Linked DNA regions of Homo sapiens: region 2 is linked to region 1. The links come from fine-mapping of genetic effects on plasma protein levels. A gene starts in region 1. The other region holds a variant in brackets. All regions are shown on one strand. Distances are between the middles of the regions.

What was found. PIP is the posterior inclusion probability: the model's chance that the variant is causal. Protein levels are from the aptamer-based SomaScan assay of Sun 2018.
Region 2: its variant is fine-mapped to the plasma level of the VEGFC protein (Sun 2018, PIP 0.95).

What each region holds. Positions count from the first base shown.
Region 1 is chr4:176,790,682-176,796,065 of GRCh38, forward strand. It overlaps VEGFC (vascular endothelial growth factor C), which reads right to left and starts at 2,241. Exons shown (of 7, transcript NM_005429.5): 1 at 1,484-2,241. The coding sequence starts at 1,630.
Region 2 is chr4:176,870,381-176,875,764 of GRCh38, forward strand. It overlaps LINC02509 (long intergenic non-protein coding RNA 2509), which reads left to right and starts at 5,322. Exons shown (of 2, transcript NR_149104.1): 1 at 5,322-5,384. The variant T/A (reference allele first, on the strand shown) is at 2,475.

The sequences.
Region 1 (5,384 bases):
AACCAATACAGAGATGTTGCCTTACTAAATCATACTTTTACTAGTTTTGACTTTGCAGAAATAGCAAATAGGTACTGCAAAATCAAGGACTCAAATTATCAGAAGCGTTATTGAGCCGATTATTACATTTCTGCGGTATTTAAGAACAGAAAGATATTTTCATCACTATAGTTACGGCAATGTAAGTATAGGCACTGAAAATTATTTTTGTGATTCACAGAATGCAGTCTGTTCTATTTCATGTATATTGTTTTTACTCAAGAGGCATTCCTTTAACCCCTATATTAAATTATTACACATTCCAACATTTTAATGTTTTCCCAAAATTTAAATGCAAAGGTAGTTTGATTTCCAAAAATTAGTCTTCTCAATCTTTAAGTGTATTTCAAAATATAAATATAAATAAAATATTTCAAAATATAAGGCTATTTTCTACACATTGTGTATGTGTTAATCAACAGTCAAATTAAAGTTGACTGTAACACACCACAGGTACCTCTCCACTTGCCACCAGTTGAAATAAACTACCGCAGTATAGTTCCAGCAAGGGGTACTGCAAGTGTTTGAACTGAAATGTCGAATATAACTTCTTTAGGAACTCTCTTAAGCATACTCTATATGGTTATGGCAGGTATGAACTTTTTAGATAAAGATATACTCTTTTGGAAGAGCCAGTAAGAAGTAGGAACACACACAAATCCTTTTTCAAAATCAGGATGCCTCAAAAGTATTTTGGCAACATTTTCAGGCAAAGGATTAAACACCTCTTATTTAAAAGAAAACAAAACAAACAAAAAACCCAAACAAGAAAAAAAAAAACTTAGTTTGCAGTATCTCATGACCAGATTTTAGGAATGAAGAGCTTATAAAGTTGAAACAAGCCTTGCATTGCTTGATTGTGATCTAACTGACTCTAATCTCCCGTTACATCTCAAGTCTGACCAACTTCAAGTGAACTCTGAAAGCTCTGGAGCCTGGTTACTAAAGTCCCTGACACTTTTTTTCTAAAGTCGCTCACAGCGCCTGGTGCTCTGCAGACTATGAACACTCCAGGAAAGTAAGGCTGGGTTGACTGATCACCAGTGTCCCAGAATCTGTTTGGAGTCCCATGAATCAGCTGGGGAAAGAAACGAGCATTTCCCGACCAAAATGAACTCATACTCTCCAGAGCCCCGCTGACTGGGCAGGGTTCAAGACCCCTTGGTTGCCCCAGAGGAAACCAGTCTGAAATAGATTTCGGGATCTCTCACTGGGCACCTCTCCGGGCCCTTCACTCGTGTAACTTGCTTGCCTCTCTAGTAACAACTTTCTATTTAAAAAGAAGAAGATTTTTCTCCAAAGCAGCGTGCACTGAGCTCAGTAACTTTGGATCCCACGTACACAAGCTTAAAGCACACACACTTTCCCCCGCGCAGGTTCTCGGGTCCGCCGCAGACCCTAACGCAAACTCTCGGGTTCTCCGCAAACCCTAACGCAGACCTACCGTGGCCTCGCCCGCGTCGGGCTCCGCGTCCGAGAGGTCGAGTCCGGACTCGAAGGCGGCGGCGGCGGCGGGCGCCTCGCGAGGACCCGGGAGCAGCGCAGCGGCGAGCAGAGAACACGCCACAGAGAAGAAGCCCAGCAAGTGCATGGTGGAAGGACCGGGGGTGGGGGACCGGTCCGCTGGCGGGGGCAGGGGTGGGGGCGCGGGCGCCCCTGCGAGGCCGCGGGCCCCTCCTGGTCCCTCTCCCCCGGGCTCCTCCCGGCGACCCCCCCTGGGCGAGCCGGAGGCGGCGGGAGCGGGTCCGGGGCTCCGCGTTCCCAACTTTGCAGGGCGCCCTCCCAGCCAGTGCCGGGGAAAGGCGGCGGGTGTCAGGTAAAAGCCTCACAGGAAACCGGACATCCGAGCTCCCCGCATTCGGAGCCCGCGAGGTGAAGCGAGGGCGAGGGAGGACGCCGCCGCGGTCCGCGTCGGTGTAGCTTTTTGGAGAGGCGGGGCGGGGGACACCAGAACACCCCGCGATGTTCAGCCCCTCCAAACCCGCCAGAGCCCTCGTCCCCCTCCTCCCTCCCCTTCCCCGAAGTGAGAGGAGCCGGGCCGCGGGCGCTGCGGCGGGGGCGCTGGCGGCGGTGCCGGGGGCGGGAGGAGGGCGGCGGGGCGGCTGGCGGCGGCGGGGCCCGGGAGCGCCGCGGCGCAGGATCCTCCAGAGCGCGCCGGGCTGAGCGGCGGCGGCGGCGGCGGCGGGCGCAGGGGCAGGGCATGACTGACGCGCCCTCTGCCTGCGCTTATGTGAGAGAAAGCGGCCGAGGGAGGGAGCGTGCCGAGCCCGGGCTGCCCTCCCCTCTCACTCTCCCTCGGAAGCCGTCTCCCTGGAGCTCCCCGTTTCCCTCGCCTCCTCCCCGGCGGCCCCACCTCCCCCGGCCCCCCTCTGGATCTCTCCCTCCCCGCCCCTGTCCCCTGCGGGGAGCGGGCGGCCGGAGGGGCAAGTTCAGTCCCGGGGCTGGCGGTTGGCGGGACCGGCTTTAGAGGTGATGCGACCACCCTGGACCACGTGCAGCGGGGAGAAACTGGGCACCGTGGGGTGGAGGGAGCCCCCGCTTTATCCTCGGCCACTCCCGAGTTCTTGTCCTCCCTCCCGCACGCCTGGCCCCCAGAGCCCTGCTCAAAGTTTGGAAATGTCCTGGGGGTTGTAAAAGTTCCAAGAAAAGGTCATCACTATGTCAGAGAACCCTATGGGACCTCGGAGGGGTCCCCTCTCTCCCTTGGTCTGTGTAGTTGAAAGTTGCCTGATGATCCAAGAACCGCAGTTCTCAGGATGCAGTGCAGGCTGTTGGGATGGATGCTAATGATCCCTTTGGAATCCTAAACTTCTGACAGGTGAAGAGAAGGGCCAGAATCTTCGTGGAGAGTAAAGAGACACATTGTCAGCTTCTGCAAGAAGTTGGTTTACTTGAAAAAGGGGGTGATAAAGAGAGATGTGTGTGAGACATATTCCAGAAAGGATGTGTAGCATCCAAAGAAAAGTGACTGCATTTCCCCATTGGAAAAGCACTGGGGTTTCCGTTGGGCTGGTGGCATTGGCTAGCTGCCTCCTTGGGGCAGGGTGAGCAGGTTACAGAGGACCACGCTAAGGGGTTTCAACAGTGTACAGAACATCAAAAGTCTGCCTTTCACTCCCAATCTACTTTTAAGTACACAGATGTTATAGGTCCATAATATCTTACCGGAAGAAGAGACTTTCTTATCTGGTTCAACTCTAGATTTGAAACTCCTCACCCATAATTTACTTGAAGGCTTAAATATCTCAAAGGACAGGGAACCTTCCATTCTGTGTGGCTGTTCACTCCCTTTATTGATGAGCAACACTGCTGAAAAGCATTTCCTTCTATCTCTCTATTGCTTTTGACTCCTGGAGTTTTACACAATAAATCTAATCTCACTTCCACAACTGAGTCCTTCAAATATTTTGAAAATATTTATCATGGTCTCCCTAAGCTAACTTTACTCCTGGCTAAATATCCCTTTTATTCCCCAAGATGACAGTTCCAGTTTCCCCCCTTAACCATACTGTTAGCTTTCCATGTTCATGAAGTATGCGGTTGAGAACATGGCTCGGTACTTAGTGCTGTAATGAGCATGCAGAATGGACAGTATGCCTTTGTTGATACAGCCTTGGATTGAGTTTATTTTCTGGCAGCCAAATCACAGTGTTGACTCACACTACCCTTAAAGTCAACAAAATTCCTCAATAATTTTTCATATGTACTGCTACTTAGTCACGTCTAAATTCCCCTGTATTTGTGGAGTTAAGTTTACTGTATCCAAGATGCTTTTTTATGTATCTTTATGAAATTCCATCCCATCAGACTCGGTCCATGATCTAGCCTGTTGAGATGTTTTGTGATTTGGAACATGGTCAGTGTATCACTCTCTTGCTGTCTTCCTGCTCTATGCATATTTGATCAGCCTGCCATAGTTATCTTCAGACATTGATAGATCTGTGAAAAGGGAACAGCTAAGGGCAGACTGGGGTAGGATTTGAATAGAAGGTGGAGTTTCCATTCAACCATTTGCTATTACAATGATTCTAAACTTTGATTGCACTTGGCATCACAAAAGGAGATTTTGAAAAAACAGATGCTTGAGTACACCTTCTGCCTTTCTGGCTTAACTGGTCTAACTGGAGTAAGGCTTGGACATCAGGATTCTAATAGGCAAACAAAATTGAGAACCACAGGCATTTCCAACACCCACAGGCCTAGCAGCGGGTGAAGACTGGAAAATCAACAAACTCAAAATATATCCAAAATATATTAATATCATATTAACTACTGTTTCATTTAAATACAGCAGTAAGCTGTATTCAAACTTTTTTCTCACAAAAGTGTTATCTTCCTGCTGCTATACTTTGAGTCAGAAAATGCTGGCAAAAAGTTTATTTGAATAAAAAAAAGGTCTCCAAAAACAATCATGCAGTAGTTGTTTGTCTTAAGGTTGGTCGGGCACGGTGGCTCACGCCTGTAATCCCAGCACTTTGGGAGGCCGAGGCGGGTGGATCATGAGGTCAGGAGATCGAGACCATCCTAGCTAACACCGTCCATCTTAGGGAGACCATGATAAATATTTTCAAACGTTGGTGAAACCCCGTCTCTACTTAAAACACACACACACACACACACACACACACACACACACACACACACACACACACACACACACAGAATGTCTTAAGGTAAAAACGAATAGTTGCTCAGGACTTTTTGGTTTTTTTTCTTCCTTACCCCCTGGAAACACTTTTTGCCACTAGCAGATTTTAAAGGTTGAGAAAGTCCTTTTCACTGGTTTGTGAGTTCATCACTAGCTTCATGCAAGACCTATTTTACAACAGGTCTTCTAAATCTGGTTATTCAAAAAGCATTGCTCAGTCAGTGGAGAAAGAGAGGTAGCAGGGCCCCAGCCAGAATAACACCTCTTTTACATATTGAGTTTTTGTTTTCTTTGATGATAGGTTTTGTTCTTTGTGTTTTGTGTCTGTGTGTGTGTGTGTGTGTGTGTGTGTGTGTGTGTTTGTTTGTTTGAGATGGAGTCTCGCTCTGTCTCCCATGCTGGAGTGCAGTTAGAGTACAGTGGCACCATGTCAGCTCACTGCAACCCCTGGGTTCAAGCTATTCTCCTGCCTCAGCCTCCCAAGTAGATATGGGAGATGATAGTTTTGGATGGCAAAATAATGATGATAATATATCCATTGTACATTCTCTAATATCCATTCTGACCATCTACTTTATTTCTCATTTGTTATTCCCTACCTTCTTGCTTTGTTAGTTTTACTTTGTTGCTTCATTTCAAGCTTTTTTAGCTGAATGCTTAGTTCATTTTTCTTCTTTTTAGTTTAAAAATACAAGTT
Region 2 (5,384 bases), 80 kb after region 1:
AATTGCTACTCTGTCTTCTACAATGGTTGAACTAATAATATACATTCCCACCAACAGTGTAAAAGTGTTCCTATTTCTCCACATCCTTGCCAGCATCTGTTGTTTCCTAACTTTTTAATGACTGCCATTCTAACTGGCATGAGATGGTACCTCATTGCAGTTTTGATTTGCATTTCTCTAATGACCAGTGATGAAGAGCTTTTTTTCATGTTTATTGGCCACATAAATGTCTTCTTTTAAGAAATGTCTGTTCATGTCCTTCACCCACTTTTTGATGGGGTTGTTTGTTTTCTTGTAAATTTGTTTAAGTTCCCTGTAGAGTCCGGATATTAGACCTTTGTCAGATGGATAGATTGCAAAAATTTTCTCCCATTCTCTATGTTGCCTGTTCATGCTGATGATAGTTTCTTTTGCTCTGCAGAAGCTCTCTAGTTTAATTAGATCCCATTTGTCAATTTTGGCTTTTGTTGCAATTGCTTTTGGTGTTTTAGTCATGAAGTCTTTGCCCATGCCTATGTCCTGAATGGTATTGCCTAGGTTTTCTTCTAGGGTTTTTGTGGCTTTAGGTTTTATGTTTAAGTCTCAAATGAATCTTGAGTTAATTTTTGTATAAGTGTATGGAACAGGTCCAGTATATGATTTCTGCATATGGCTAGCCAGTTTTCCCACCACCATTTATTAAGTAGGGAATCCTTTCCCCATTGCTTGTTTTTGTTAGGTTTGTCGAAGATCAGATGATTGTAGATGTGTGGTGTTATTTCTGAGGCCTCTGTTCTGTTCCATTGGTGTATATATCTGTTTTGGTACCAGCACCATGCTGTTTTAGTTACTGTAGCCTTGTAGTATAGTTTGAAGTCAGGTAGCATGATGCCTCCAGCTTTGTTCTTTTTGTTTAGGATTGTCTTGACTATACCCCTAAAACATCGTGAACCACTCTAAATATACAGCTTTCAAATAAATTTCACATTTCTTCCAAGTAGAGCTCACTGGTAACATTAAAAACTCAAATTTATACTCAAAAGACACTGGGGATAGGGGAACAAAAGGAATAAGAGCCAAATTGTTACTGATTTTCAACAGGTACATTTGAAAGAAACAGGGTTAGAGTTGTTATTAGGGCAGTAGTGATTAGATTGCACAAATAACTGGGCAATGTCAATTCTCGGTATTCTGTGTTACCATTTCAGTTCTCAGTTTTCTGTTTGAAAAAGGACTTAAATTTTTCTTCAGCTGATTTTAGTTGAACATCCCCACTAAATATGGTAGAATGTGAAAGGCTATTTTTAAATGTAATAAACCATAAAAAATGCTTATGGTCTCAGAAATTCTGCTTGTCCTCTTAATGATGCACACGTTGGACTGTGAGCTTGTGGTAGAATGGAGTTAGACTTTTGATAAAGGTCAAAATGTTAATAGGACTTTTATTTTGTTTCTTTGTAATCCACTCTAAGGTTTCTAAAACTCAAAACTCTATAATTAAATTTATCTATTGAAATTCTAAATTTTTGTCGATCGTCATGATTCATAGATATTCTTACACGAAAACAAACAAAAAAGACTCCAAACAATGCAAAACAAAATATTAAAGCACAAAAGAAGTAATTAGACTAAAAATGGTACGTTAACTTTGATTACTGATACCACCGGGAAAATACCTACTTAAACCTTCTAAGCAGACCTCAGAAGACACTCTGTAATCTAATGAAAATTAGTTTTATAAAGTCAACAGGAGTCCTATTATAAAATAGAAATGTATGAACAACAGAGTCCACCATCTTGGCTGTTGTCTTGAAGTCATCTACAACGATGAGCCCTTCACGATGTTTTTCTGAATGTTCTCTACTGGACTTCCATTCAGAAATAAAAGATTTGGCAGATGGAATATTTTCATTCTTAATTTAATAAACTATATGTCAGAATTTTTGTTGTGTGATGCCTTTTGCCATTTTTAGTAGATAGTAGCAGCTGTAGAATTAATTAATGTGTACTTACTTCTGAGCCAAAATATGAAAAACAGAAATGATAACCCCTAAATTCTCTTACTTTGCCAAATGGAGTATCTAGAACCATGCCAAAAGTGAATGTTGAGAGAAAAAAAAAAAGAGAATAAAAGCTCTCTAAGCAGCTGAAATATTTATCGAAAGGCCATTATGCTATGTCTTTCTGCTCTTCTCCGAGAATCTATCAGACAAATGGTTGGATAATAGTGCAGACTTTAGTTGACTTCCTGGTCCACAGAAAGTAAGTCCCACAGTCACATAACGAAAGCAGGGAAGTAGGAGGTGTTAGGGAATGTATGACTGTAGTGTGGCTAGGGGAGGGGAGGCAATTCATAGTCTGAGAACAAGGGGAAAAAATTAGAAACAAATTTAATTTTATAATTGGATTTAAGAACCACAAACCCAAAACAGTTTGGAGCTCCTTAATACAAGTTAAAAATACCCTAGTGGTATTGAAAGTAGCACAGAATACAA[T/A]TTATGTTATAATGATGTTCCTGGTTTATTCTAAAATTTGACCATATTTAATATTTCTGTTTAACCACGAGAGAAACGGTCAATGCTAATGATTCATACCCTGAGAATCAGTCACCTATTGATGGAAATAGCCAACTTGGGAGAGAGACAGACTAGATTTTACTTTAAAGTCAGCTATATTTTATATCAGTGCCCTCCAATAAATAATTTATTTTTCTTTTCCCTGCCTTCCCCGCCTTCTCTGCCTTCCCTGCCTTCCCTTTCTTCCTTTTCTTTCTTTCCTTCTTTTTCTTTTCTTTTTCTTTCTTTCTTTCTCTTTCTTTCTCTCTCCCCTTCCTTCCTTCCTTCCTTCCTTCCTTCCTTCCTTCCTTCCTTCCTTCCTTCCTTTCTTTCTTTCTTCCTTCCTTCCTTCTCTTTCTTTCTTTTTCTTTCTTTCAACTGGGTCTCTTTCTGTCACCCAGCCTGGACTGCAGTGGCACAATCTCAGCTCACTGCAACCTCCAGCTCCAGGGTTCAAGCAATTCTCACGTGTCAGCCTCCCAAGCAGCTGGGATTATAGGCACCTGCCACCATGCTGGGCTAATTTTTGTATTTTTAGTAGAGACAGGGTTTCACCATATTGCCTAGGCTAGTCTTGGACTCCCGGCCTAAGTGATCTTCCCACATCGGCCTCCCAAAGTGCCAGGATTACAGGTGTGAGCCACCATGCCTGGCCATATACGTAATTTATAATAGACACATTAAGTAAAATGAAGTAAGTGAAATTACTTTGAATAATATATTTTCTTTAATTTAATATATGCCAAATTTTATATGAATATATAATCAATATTTTAAAATATTTATGAAGTGTTTTACAATATTTTGGTATTGAATCTTTGAATCTAATGTATGTTTACACTTACAACAAAAGTATCTCAATTTTGGTACTAAATTATCACCTGAAATGTTTGATCTGTTCTTAGACTATATAAAATTTACTGTTGAAAATGTAACTATGTGCCCAAATTCATCCAAACACGCTTAAAATTTTCTAATAACTGATGCAAGCATTAGTTTTTAAATAAAATTTAAGGCAAGTAAACTTAAATAATATCAAAAATTCAGTTCTTGGGTTGCACTAGCCACATTTCCAGTACCCAATAGCCACATGTGGCTAGCACTGCAGTCTTTGATGGTGCTGTCCTGTGTGGATGTCTTTGGACAAGATTCTACAGCCCCAGTAAAAATGGGATAGCAAAACCAAAGAGTCAAGGTTTTGAATAGTTAGACATAATATTTAAAAAGAGTCTATCATATACTCATGACTCAATGAATAAGGAATAAATATTTTCATACAAAATCATTAAAAAATGTTAAGAAAATGAGTTTTAGATTTAAATAAAATTCATTTACCTGGGATACATTGCCCAGTGAGACCTGATTAATAAGATCTTAATGGATAAAATAAATGTCAGGTGATACTGAAAAAGATGTGTGAATGTACATGAGAAACTGACAGAGGAGGTGAATATTTGGAGTAATATTCAGAAGGTCGCTAGATGGTTTAATTTTCTTTTTTGGAAACTTCAATTTCAAGGGAGCAGTAAAAGGTAATCTTTAAAAAATAAAATTATTAAGCAGAGATAAGACACTATCTGATTAATAATTAACTTTGTAAAAAGGGGCAATATTTTATCCTGCCTTTCTACTAGGAAACTGTATAATTAAAACCACACTATATGCTATTATGTATGGCAATTTTAAGATTATATCTCTGGACATATACATAATAAGCAAGTTATTTTCAGTGCTCTCATACAGACATGGCGCTTAACTACTGAATGGTGGAAATTTTGTTTTAAATTATTTAAAATTATATTTAACAGAGGTTGCATATAATTCAATTGTAAACTTGCTTCTTACATAACTTTACCGTTTCTTCTTTTAGCTTTAGTGTAAAATTAGGCAAGGCAGAAACTCACATTATGGAAGTTCCCCTGAGAAAAGTAGTTTTCTAAAAGTATTTCTCTTTGTTTTCTTGTTCCCAATAGCGAAACGTTTTTGTAAATAATGGCCGAAAACATCACGTAAGATTTGCAGTATTTAATTCCCTTGAGATTAAAAGAATATTTTCCTTTAAATTAGTGGTAAGTTTTATCACCTTACATATACACAGATTCCTAGATAAATCCATTGTATGATTTTCAAAATACATCTTTCTGATATATTTTTATATTTGATCCATACCTCATTTTTTTTTTCCGGGCCTGCAGGGCCTGTACTATTACTGTGGTTTTCTAGATGAGTAAAATCAGGCATAGTGAGGTTAAGTGACTTACCCACGGTGGCTTGTTGACAATAGGGCTAGAGCCAGAACCCAAGCTGAGAAGCCAGTATTTTATCCGCAATTCCTTAGAGCTAAGTTACAAAGTATTTTTAGTATTTCCACTCGCTCCATGTCATTTAAGCCAACAAATAATGATTTACATAAGGCGATAAAATAATGTATTCTACAGAGACAGCAGGGCTTGGATAGTTTTGGAGAAAGAAACAAAATCTCTTAAAAACTGACCTCATTGTTTGAGCTTCTTTCCAGGAAACTTTTCTACATGTACTAATTTTCTTGACCAGGTTCATAAAGCCCTGACAAGTTTATATTCTCTGTATTATTTTTCTTCTGAACCTTCTGGGGCAGTAAGAGAGCAATGATGCTTGCTGCAAACATAGGCTTTAGAATCTGACAGAGATCACCTCCCTCTGACCTCAGTAACACTGGCCCCTGCTCAGGGCCTCAGGCCTTTGTGACTCAAATGCAATTAGAGATTGAGAAGCACTTCCATCTGTGTGCATGTGGCCACTTGTGATGCAAGACAGAGGCAGGACTGAGAAGACGAGAGGTGGGCTTCGTTCCTGAGAATATCCAGGAGT